3 linked regions of the Homo sapiens genome follow. The protein of the gene in region 1 interacts with the protein of each later gene in a biochemical or structural test. Each region holds a gene or a part of one and is shown in the gene's direction. Other genes may lie near its edges.

The links.
Region 2: the proteins of ARHGEF26 (region 1) and PDZD2 interact in a test that uses a peptide from one of them, tested with the Homo sapiens proteins (one large-scale study listed by IntAct).
Region 3: the proteins of ARHGEF26 (region 1) and SNTG1 interact in a test that uses a peptide from one of them, tested with the Homo sapiens proteins (one large-scale study listed by IntAct).

Annotation. Positions count from the first base shown.
Region 1 is NC_000003.12:154,187,274-154,190,929, forward strand, and holds part of ARHGEF26 (rho guanine nucleotide exchange factor 26), read left to right. Parts: intron 1-411; coding exon 412-564; intron 565-3,656. UniProt on the Homo sapiens protein: Activates RhoG GTPase by promoting the exchange of GDP by GTP. Required for the formation of membrane ruffles during macropinocytosis. Required for the formation of cup-like structures during trans-endothelial migration of leukocytes.
Region 2 is NC_000005.10:32,083,027-32,086,682, forward strand, and holds part of PDZD2 (PDZ domain-containing protein 2), read left to right. Parts: intron 1-3,656.
Region 3 is NC_000008.11:50,792,751-50,796,406, forward strand, and holds part of SNTG1 (gamma-1-syntrophin), read left to right. Parts: coding exon 1-79; 3' UTR 80-3,656. UniProt on the Homo sapiens protein: Adapter protein that binds to and probably organizes the subcellular localization of a variety of proteins. May link various receptors to the actin cytoskeleton and the dystrophin glycoprotein complex.

The DNA of each region.
Region 1 (3,656 bases):
CCTTCCCATAAAGAATTCTTGAAAAATAATGAAATATGTTTAGTCTAAAGTACCTGAAGGCAGAGCAGATCAATGTTTGAAGCCAAACACTTGAAGCAATAACTTGATTTTTTTTTTTTTTTTTTTGGTTTTGTCTTGTCTTGAACTCCTGGCCTCAAGTGATCTTCCTGCCTCAGCCTCCCAAAGTGCTGAGATTATAGGCGTGAGCCACAATGCTCATCCTCAAGGAGGTGTTAATATGATAGATTTAAACTTAGATAAAATTTTTATAGATTTTAAAAATATTTTTTAGTTGGTACTGTGTACTGTTGAATTTTCAAACCCCGTGTAATAACATTACATGAGGCTAATCTGTTATCTGTTAGAGTGTATGAAAGAAGTGTTAATTTTTTTTTCCCTTTGGTTTTTCAGGTTCTTTATAGAGTTGGAAGCAAGACATCAGAATAATATCTTCATAGATGACATAAGTGACATTGTGGAAAAACACACAGCATCCACATTTGACCCATATGTGAAATACTGCACAAATGAAGTCTACCAACAACGAACACTACAAAAATTGTTGTAAGCAATGTCGAATGCTACAGTTTTAATCATCTAACCTAGTTTTAATTAGGCTACATTGACTGAAATTAATTGATCTTTTGAATTATATTTAGAAATGCCTCCTGATAGGCTATTTCCCAGAGGAGAAATGTTTAAGAGCATTACTTTTAGGGTGAGGGTGTTTAAGTAGAAAAATCTAGTGTGTAGAGAATTTTCTCTCTTACGAAATTATAGCTTGTTATTGATGTCCTTGTTTAGTGTTTCGTTGTTTTTAATTGTTGCAGGAAACAGAGGTGGTCCTCACTCTAAACCCGCAGTTTTCTAAGCTTTTTACTGGCAATTAAGTGGTTTTCCTGAGGCTTAGAGGGGATTCTTGAGTTGATTGAGCTAAAAGCTAAGATTCAGAGTTTTCTCTACTATTCTGATCTCCCTCCATTCAATTGACAACGATAATAAATTGTTCATAAAAATTGCTGATTATTCCCCCCACTTGGGTAGTTAGAGTTGAAGAGAGGAGGGAAGTTCTGAAGGAAAGCAGTAGAAAAAAGTAATGTTCTTAAAGATTTCAGTTATGCAGCAAAAGAGTTAAGCATTAGATTTCCTGCCACATCTTTTCTTTTTGTCCTTTTTAGGTTACTGAGAGTTTTGATGTGATGCATATGCCATCTGTGTCCTTAAAAGAGTCACCAATTGTTCAGTAATGCCTATATGTATTTTAAAGAGTCCTGTTTATCACAAGTAGCTGTTTTACAGCACAGTTGTGCACTGCTGTAAACCCAGTTTGGGAGCTTAATGGCTGTTATCGTTCTCACCCCCTCCTGTGAGTTGTGGCATTTATGACCACGGCATGGAGCTTCGGTCAACTTCTGTGCAATATGTGAGACCCCTATGGAGGAGTAGGGGTTGAGGATGACTAACTTATGGCTGCTTGGAGAAATAGTCAAAGCCTCTAAGCTGATGAGAAGGGCTGATGATGGCCCCCTTTTTCCTCCACATCTTCATGACATTTTCATATAGCCAGGGTGGAAAACACACAGCTGCTAACCCCAATGAGATTTTTAGTATAAAGCAGGGTTTGTTCGCACAATTGACATTTTGGACTGGATAAGTCTTTGTGGTGGGCTGTCCTATGCATTTTAAGATGCTTAAGGGCATCCCTGGCTTCCATCTGCTAGATGCCAAAAATCTCCCCAGACATTGCAGAAGGTCCCCTGAGGGTAAAACCACACCCATCACTTCCTCACTCCACCACGCCCTGGTGGGAACCGCTGCTATAGGAACAGAGGTTCTCTGTAACTGTTAGAGAATGCAAGTTCATGTCTGAAAACAAAGCCTTGAATTAGAGATAAATTTGGGTTTCATTTTGTTTTGCAGGATTTAAAAAATGTCACTAGGTACTGCTATACATCATGTGACTCTTAAAGGTTTTATCTAAATTAGCTTAATGATAACATCATCAGCACTTTCACGTGGCAATTAGTAGTGTTTTCAGGGGATTTGTTGCAGTTGATGTGATTTTTTTTTTTTTTTTTTTTTGAGATGGAGTCTCACTCTGTCACCCAGGCTGGAGTGCAGTGGCGCAATCTTGGGTCACTGCAACTTCTGCATCCCAGGTTCAAGCGATTCTCCTGCCTCAGCCTCCCGTGTAGCTGGGACTACAAGTGCATGCCACCACACCCAGTTAATTTTTTGTATTTTTAGTAGAGACTGGGTTTCACCGTATTAGCCAGGATGGTCTTGATCTCCTGACCTCGTGATCCACCTGTCTCTGCCTCCCAAAGTGCTGGGATTACACGCGTAAGCCACTGCGCCCAGCCCGCAGTTTATGTGAATTTAAGGTTAGAACAGTGGCTTTCAATTCTAGCTGCATGTTAGAAATGCCTTGGGGCCTGAAAATGAGCAAATGTACACTGTCCAGAGTCCATCCCAGACTATTTAATCAGAACCTTTGGAAGGTGAGGGAGGGGACTGGGACCTGAGTTATTTAAATATACAACTAATTTAGAGGTTTTTGTTTTTTTTTTTTAACTTTCTAAAAATCTTGTCAAAGCTATCAGTAAAAGGAAACTTAAAACTTCTCAATTAGAGAAAATGGAAATGAATTGTTTCTGTATAATTTCTTTTCATTTGCTATTCTGGCATTCTCCCCCTCCCTGCTTTTAGTAGCAGCCTTGAACAAGATTATTTAATTTTCAAAATAACATTTTTTTTAAAAAAAATGACTGCTATTGTCACTATCCTGCTTCCTTCTCCCTTCATGGGAGTACAATATCCATCTACCTCCTACCCTCCTTGCCTTGGAAAGTGGCAGTGGAACTCTACAGAGCTCCTCATGGGATGAAGTGAGGTAAGAGAGTGAGAAATGGGGGGACAAGAGTGTCAGATTTAACATTAGAAAACTTGGGTTTGAGGCCAGGCACAGTGGCTCACGCCTGTAATCCCACCACTTTGGGAGGCCGAGGCAGGTGGATTACTTGAGGCCAGGAGTTCGAGACTACCCTGGCCAACATGAAACCTTTTCTCTACTAAAGATACAAAAATTAGCTGGGCGTCATGGCACACACCTGTAATCCCAGTTACTTGTGAGGCTGAGGCATAGAATTGCTTGAACCTGGGAGGCAGAGGCTGCAGTGAGCCGAGATTGTGCCATTGCACTCCAGCCTAGGTGATAGAGCAAGACTCCATCTCAAAACAAACAAACAAACAAACAAACCTGGGTTTGACTTCTGTCTTTGGCAGTTACTAAGTCATATTTACTTGGTGAGGTAGGGACCTTTCTGCATTCCATTTTCTTACTGGAATCCCTATCTGGCCTTCCTTAAAAGTTACGTAGGTGGTTCCACATGAAAGAATGTATGTCACAGTATCTCGCTAAGTTTCATTAAAATGTTATAGCAGCATTAATACTTTTCTTGCATTAACAGGAGAAAAAGAGGAATATTTCGACTGATGTGATGAAAAGGTTTTCTGTCTCAGAAAGAGGATCTTTGTGGCCTAAAGCCTCTGAAGTCCAGTCTAACTGTTAATTTCTTATGCCATTGTCTAGGGCTGGAGAAGTGGCTTAAAACATATTATTTATGATCTTATTAATGATATATGTTTATAGATGA
Region 2 (3,656 bases), on another chromosome or scaffold:
CTAGAAACTTAAGAAATTACAATTGAGAGGGAAGTTTTGAAAGATAGCATAAAAATCAGCTAAGCCCAAGTGAAAAACCTCTGTTAATATTTTGGTCTGTATCATTTGAGTCTTGTGCGTATATGGGTGTGAATAAATATATAGTCCTGTGCTTTTTTTGTCTTTTTGCCAAAAAAAAAAAAAAAATCCACTGTGGTAGTCACCAGTACCTAACAACCTTTTTAAACCTCATACATCCACACGAAATAATATTTGAGCAGCCTGCTGGCATCAGTAAGACTGCTCCTCAGCCCATGGGCCTGACCTAGCAGGCTGTCCCTCGCACTGACCACTCTGCTGTCAGCACACCCATAGCCTACTCTAGGAAACCGCACTGCTATCCTGCAGGCTCTTCTACACCCGACATCACCTGGAGAGGCTGCTGGGCCTTCCACCCCACGGATGTGCTGTAACGAGTCAACCTTCCTCCCATGATTGGGCATTTCGAACGTTTCCAGAGAAAAGGTTGTCTTGAAAGGTGACAACCAAAGGCTGCCTCAGTGTAACCTCGTCTCCCTCAGATGAAGACCTTTTAAGTTACAGACTTTGCAATAAAGTCAAATTGCTAACATGAATTGCCTGTTTAGGTTTATTCAGTGAGCGAATATGAAATTTGTTTATTTTTGAGACGGATTCTTGCTCTGTCGCTCAGGCTGGATGGAGTACAGTGGCTCGATCTCGGCTCACTGCAACCTCCGCCTCCCAGGTTCAGGCAGTTCTCCTGCCTCAGCCTCCCAAGCAGCTGGGATTACAGACGTGCACCACCACACCTGGCTAATTTTTGTATTTTTAGTAGAGATGGGATTTCCCCATGTTGGCCAGGCTGGTTTCGAACTCCTGACCTCAAGTGATCTGCCTGGCCTCAGCATCCCAAAGTGCTGGGATTACAGGCATGAGCCACCGCCCACGGCCTGAATATGAAATTTAAAAACAGAGTTTAAATCCCCTCCTTTTGTGTCATTGCTACTCCCCACCACCACCCGCACTACCGCCCATATTTGCTGTCACCAGAAGCAGGAACATTATGCTTAAGGGGAAGTTCAAAAAAGGTTGAGCAGAGAAGGAGAAGAGCACGTGGCTTTGAGTCTTGGCAGGCCCCTGGCCTTCCACAGTGGGCCTGGAAAGCTAGTAGCTAGTACGGTCTCCATGGGGATCTCGACGATCCAACCTTTTGATTGCCAAGGGCTCTCCACACAGAGGCCACATAGTCAGGGTTTAGGCAGTAGCATGGGCTGTGGAGCCAGCTTCCTGGGGCGACCGCTGGCTCTGCCACCTGTGAACTCTGACCTCAGACACATTGCTTAACCACGCTGTTTCTCCGTCCTCATCCTTCCAATGCAGATGGTCACAGGACATACCTCAGTGTTAGGAGGAAAATTAAATGTGTACAAAACTCTTAGCACAGTGTTAACTCCTTAATTATTGGAAAACCTCTTAGCACAGGGCTGAGTCCTAATAATTAGTTCTTAATTATTCACATAGCAAGGTCAGCAGGTTAAAAAAATGCAATTAAGATGATTTTATGTGAGAGCTGTGGAACGAACATAATATTTGGGGAAGAGTTGGTTTGACTTAATTCTCAAACCAAGAGCTTTCATGGAACTTCATTTTTCACTCCAACCTCAGACCCATAGTTCCTAAGAAAATAGCTTTGTTCTTTCTGATGCCAGATTTTTTTTCCCTGTTGCAAGATGCTGTGTGTCTGAGGTGGAAGATTAGCCCAAGACTATGCAGGGCCTTATGAACAGGCACTTTCAGGAGTGAGTGGCTGTTGGAACCCACCTCCTAGATGACTTCCCACTGTCCACTGGCACACATCCCCTTGCCCTGCCACCTCCAAGATTTCAGGCTCTTTCTTGCTTCTCTGCTTTCATTCTGTTGCCTTTTTTTTTTTTTTTTTTTTTTTTTTGAGACAGAGTCTTGCTCTGTTGCCCAGGCTTGAAGGCAGTGGTGCAATCTCAGCTCACTGACCTCTACCTCCTGGGTTCAAGCGAATCTCGTGCCTCAGCCTCCCAAGTAGCTGGGATTACAGGTGCATGCCACCATGCCTGGTTAATTTTTGTATTTTTCGTAGAGATAGGGTTTCACCATGTTGGCCAAGCTGGTCTCAAACTCCTGACAAGTGATCCACCTGCCTTGGCCTCCCAAAGTGCTGGGATTACAGGCGTGATCCACCGTGCCCAGCTGCCTTTTTTTTTTTTTAATTGACACATAATTGTACATACTTATGGAGCACAAAGTGGTACTTCAGTACATATATACATTGTGCAATGATTAAATCAGGGTAATTAGCATATCCATCACATCAAATGTATCATGTCTTTGTGGTAGGAACATCCCAAATTCTCTCTTCTAGCTATTTCAATAAATGCAATACCTTATTATTATTTTTTTTTTTTGAGACGGAGTCTTGCTCTGTTACTCAGGCTGGAATACAATGGCATGATCTTGGCTCACTGCAACTCCACCTCCCAGGTTCAAGCGATTCTCCTGCCTCAGCCTCACAAGTAGCTGGGATTACAGGCGTGTGCCACCACACTCAGCTAATTTTTGTATTTTTAGTAGAGACGGGAATTTCACCATGTTGGCCAGGCTGGTCTCGAACTCTTGACCTCAGGTGATCCACCCGCCTTGGCCTCCCAAAGTGCTGGGATTACAGGCGTGAGCCACCATGCCCAGCCCTGTTTTTGTTGTGTTGTTGTTGTTTTGTTTTGTCTTTTGTTTTTTTTACACTCAAACTGCCTTGGCTATTCAGAGTCCTTTGTGGTTCCATGCACATTTTACAACTGTTTTTTTTTTTTCTATTTCTGTAAAAAATGTCATTGGAATTTTGGTAGGAATTGTACCGAATCTATAGATGACTTTGGGTAGTATGGACATTTTAACGGTACTCTTCCATTGTCTTCCTTACCTTCCTCCTCCTCACTCTCTGGCCAAACTCCCCTTGTCAGCCCCATTCATGTCCCCACCTCCTCTGTCAAGTCTTCCTGGGATAATCTGGCTTCTCACTCTCCCACTCCTCTGAATTCGTCAAGACAGCCAGAGCTCGGTGTAGACCTGTATCCCAGCTTTCGTATTCTGTATGTTTTCCCTAGTTAGCCTCAGCCCCTGCACTAAAAAGGAAGCCTCTTGAGCTCGGCACTTGGACTGTTTTACACTGAAGTACATCATTCACATCCCCCAGTGTGAGCCAAACCCACACACCACTGGCCAGATACTGGGACTGAGAGGTCCATGAGGGCCCTGCTGCATCCACGCAGGAGTAGGGAACCAAATAGAACAAGAGCCTGACGCTTGCGGCTTTGCCATCAGAGGGTGAATGGCATAAAGAGACCCAAGTGTGCAATGATTAAATCAGGGTAATCAGCATATCCATCACATCAAATGTATCATTTCTTTGTGGTAGGAACATCTGCCATCATAGAAATACCAAAAGAGAGAAAAATGGGCAGATGTAAATGTTTCTTCTGCCGGCTAATCTGAGTTCTCTTAGAGCGTCTAAAGCAGGGTGGTATTTGTTAGATGTGGGTACTCTATAATTTTAGAGAGAAAACCAGGAAGACAAGAAGGGCCTCCATTTAGGCCACAGAACGCCGTTTTGTTGTTGTTGTTGTTGT
Region 3 (3,656 bases), on another chromosome or scaffold:
TCTATTTTTAGGCAATCAAGCTACTGCTTCTACTGCTGCCAGCTCTGCTACCACGAGCAAAGCAAAGTATACAACTTGACATACTGAACTCTTCATTGACACACCCCATGACTGTATAAGCAGGACACATTTACTCATCATTTTAGACCCTAGAGAAACCATAACATCACCAAGTCGACAGTGGAGGCAAATCAAAATTTCGGCAGAAAAAGAAGGTCATGTGGAACCTCAAAAACACTTCTATTCTGGATGACATCTGTGAAATATACTACATGAACAGAACAGCTTGTTCTCACTCAGTTGCTTTGTACCAGTAAGTGTATTGCTTTCACCAAAAGTGGAGACAAAAGAATAAATTATTTGAAGAAGTATGTAAATAACATAAAAATAGTAAGCTACCTATGAATAAAAATACTTATTAAATGATTACTTCTGTATTTTAGATTATTTTGTATGACTAGTACATGTTGGGCAGAGTCATAGGAAAACAAATGCCCTATCTTGTATTATGAGGGACATAAAAGAGTTAAAAACCATAAATCAGCAAGGAGCATGCAAAAAAATCTCATCAAAGAAGGATGCACTTTAATTTGCTGATGTAAATTTGCCCTTGTGTTCTCATCCCATGATTTGACACTGGCATTCCAATTGTTTTTATCTTATTGTAAATATTCCGAAGAACTTCCAAAGGATAATTACATTGACCCATGATAGATACAATGTGAAATGGACTATTCTCCCTTGGATCACTGTTATTGAAATGTCTTATTAGCTGCCAAAGTCAATCAAATATGCCAACAGTGTATTAATTTAATTATGAGTGATGGAAAATTTCATGAACCTCTCATTTCTTCCTTGGTTTGAAAGAGATTTGTATTTTACCTAATAAGATTTATTATCAAATTAAAGTTTCATAAATTTTCAGTGAACCCAAAACCTTTTGTAGAGAAAATAATATAAACAAATATGGTGTGAGAAACAATTCTTTGTAATCCGAAGTCTACTAGTTAATCATGAACTAAAATGTCCCCCGAAAACAGTCCCAAAGCTATTATAGATGTTAATTAAATGACATTTTTTCATTTTAGTACTATTTTATGAGAAACAAAGGTGATATTTAAAGATAAAAGTTAAAATTCTTTAACCTCCCTTGTCATGGAAAGTGATTAAGTAATGCCAACTATGCAGGTTGTTTTAGGTATTTTGTCCTAAGAATGTAAATGTGAAAGGCTGGGAAATTTGAAAGCCTTAGAGGTGTGCAATTTACTCAGATTCCAGGTATTATTCAACTAGTTGTATAACATGGAACACAGTCTCTGTCCTTCAGTACAGCTTTTTTGAGATATTTTAAAAAGTCAGCTGTGTATGTAAAAAAAAAAAAAAATTTTTATTGATACACATGCTCCCAGGTAAACCAAGTATTATGTGTGTCCTTGTGGAGATAACCAAGTATCTAATAAATTGATTCAATTTTTTTTTTCAAATATGTTTTTAAAAATCACTCAAGAAGGAAACAAAGTGATTTCTATAAAGGACAGATTTACTAATTTAAAAAATTAATATCAAGTTGTTTTTATACTCATGATTCATTAATTTATTTTGCATCAGATTAATTTGTAAATACATCAAATTGAAAAGAAAAAGTGAGGGTTTATAATTGTCCCTGGGAAAATGTTAAACTGAATCTAACATACCTTACCCAAAGAACTGTGGCAAATTACAATAAACAGTTTCAGTGTAATGTATTTTGACCGTAAAACTAAGTACACATTTGTAATTAGGATAGAACTTTAGAATTATTGCACACTATATTGATCAAATACAACAGTCATTGTAAAATTGAAACCCACCAAAAGCAGCCTTCAGTAGTAGGCCACTTCTGAACTTATGGAGAAAAAGCAGTGGGATACATCGAACTTAGAATTTTCAGCTGTGGCAAGTGGTTCATTATGGAACTTCTGCTTCCAACCAGAGCTGAATCTCAGTGTGCCCCATATTGGGGTTACATGAATGTGTCCACAATCTGGAAGGCAATATGACATGGGCTAATTATCCATAAGCAAAAGAAAAACGTTTCAACAGTTTACCTACCTGTAATAGAATGATTTAAAAATTGTGAAATTTTGTAAACGTTCCATTTTAGAATTTAAAAAACCTATTAACCATTAGCTATCTTTTTAGTGTTATTATGAAAATTTAGCCTATGCTCATGTGTGTTACGAAGGAAAAGGTGCACAATGAGATATGTATAAATATATATCTCCTCAGAGAATACACACACACCTACATATGTATTTATATGCATACATGGGTGTATATATATATAAATATAATGAAATGCTGACCATTAATTATATTAGAAGAATGTTTTGTGTACATACATTTAATATACTTTAAATTACGTTGTAAAATGTAGCTTGATTAAAAACTTATGACAATACCATTATGAATATTTTTGATACTATTGATAAAAAACATAAGCCGTGATTTTTATTTAACATGATTAGTACAACAGCCAAAAAGTAACAAAATACTATTCTCGTTTTCATCAGTTTAACAATTAGTATTTAATGTTTTCTTTACAATGTGGTGATTAGTCATTGGCATTTGTTATAACTTGGACTACTTGAATGAGAAAGCTTTGAAATGAACAAAAACACTTAAAAATTTCTATCTCTCATATAATTTAGGTTTACATGTAAGAGATTTATTCATAAAATCCTAGTTTGTACATTAAGCACATTTTAACAGCAAAATGCTAATGTGTTAACCCCTCCAGTGCCTTGGTATGTGTGAGCGTGTATGTGTGTTTGGGTGTGTGTCTGTGTATGTGTGTGAGTGTGTAAGTGTTATCATTAAAGGGTTCATTACAGTGTACATAACACAAGCTTAATGGAGAATATTGTAGGTATTTAGGTCAGAGAATGAAGTTCAAAGTCATTTGAAAACTGCTAACTACTATAATAATGTCTTTTGCCTGATAAAGAATAACAATTCATCTAAGTCGAAGTATATTACAGAAAGGGCATTTATAATTTGTTAAAATGCAACAAGTATTTATTTAAAAAATAGTTTAATAGATAGTGTAAGTGTAATGTATATCTGAACACTTATCCAGCTTTTTTAAAATGGGAGGATAATCAGGTAATTATTTCTTGCCCATATTTCAGGCATGTACCAACTTATAATTTTGAAATCTTCGCTCATAAAGCTGTCATTCAGCAAGAAAAAGAAAGCAATTACTTGAAAATAAATGTCAAGTCCATATTAGCCATGCAAAGAGAGAAATTTTCCTTTGGGTGCATTAGTTTATAGATCAACATTTCCCTCATTTACAGTGCTGAAGCTTGATCATGAACTTTGTCTATGTTGAATGCTGGATTTAAGAAAAGCTTGATTTATTACTGAGAAAAATTAATAATCCTAACGATAATTTAGAATTACTGCTAGAAATCAGCAGTGTGGAGAAGCTTTAAAAGCACAAGGATGATCTTGTGCTTAACTTTTTAAGGTAAGTGTAGATGTTCGGATACTAATAACAAAGATTTTGCTACTATTAATATTGCTGTGCTCATAATTTCTCCTTATGAAATTGCTTTATTCATACTTCTAAAATTGTTCTTTATTGTTTATTCTTACTACCGAATACTTTAAAA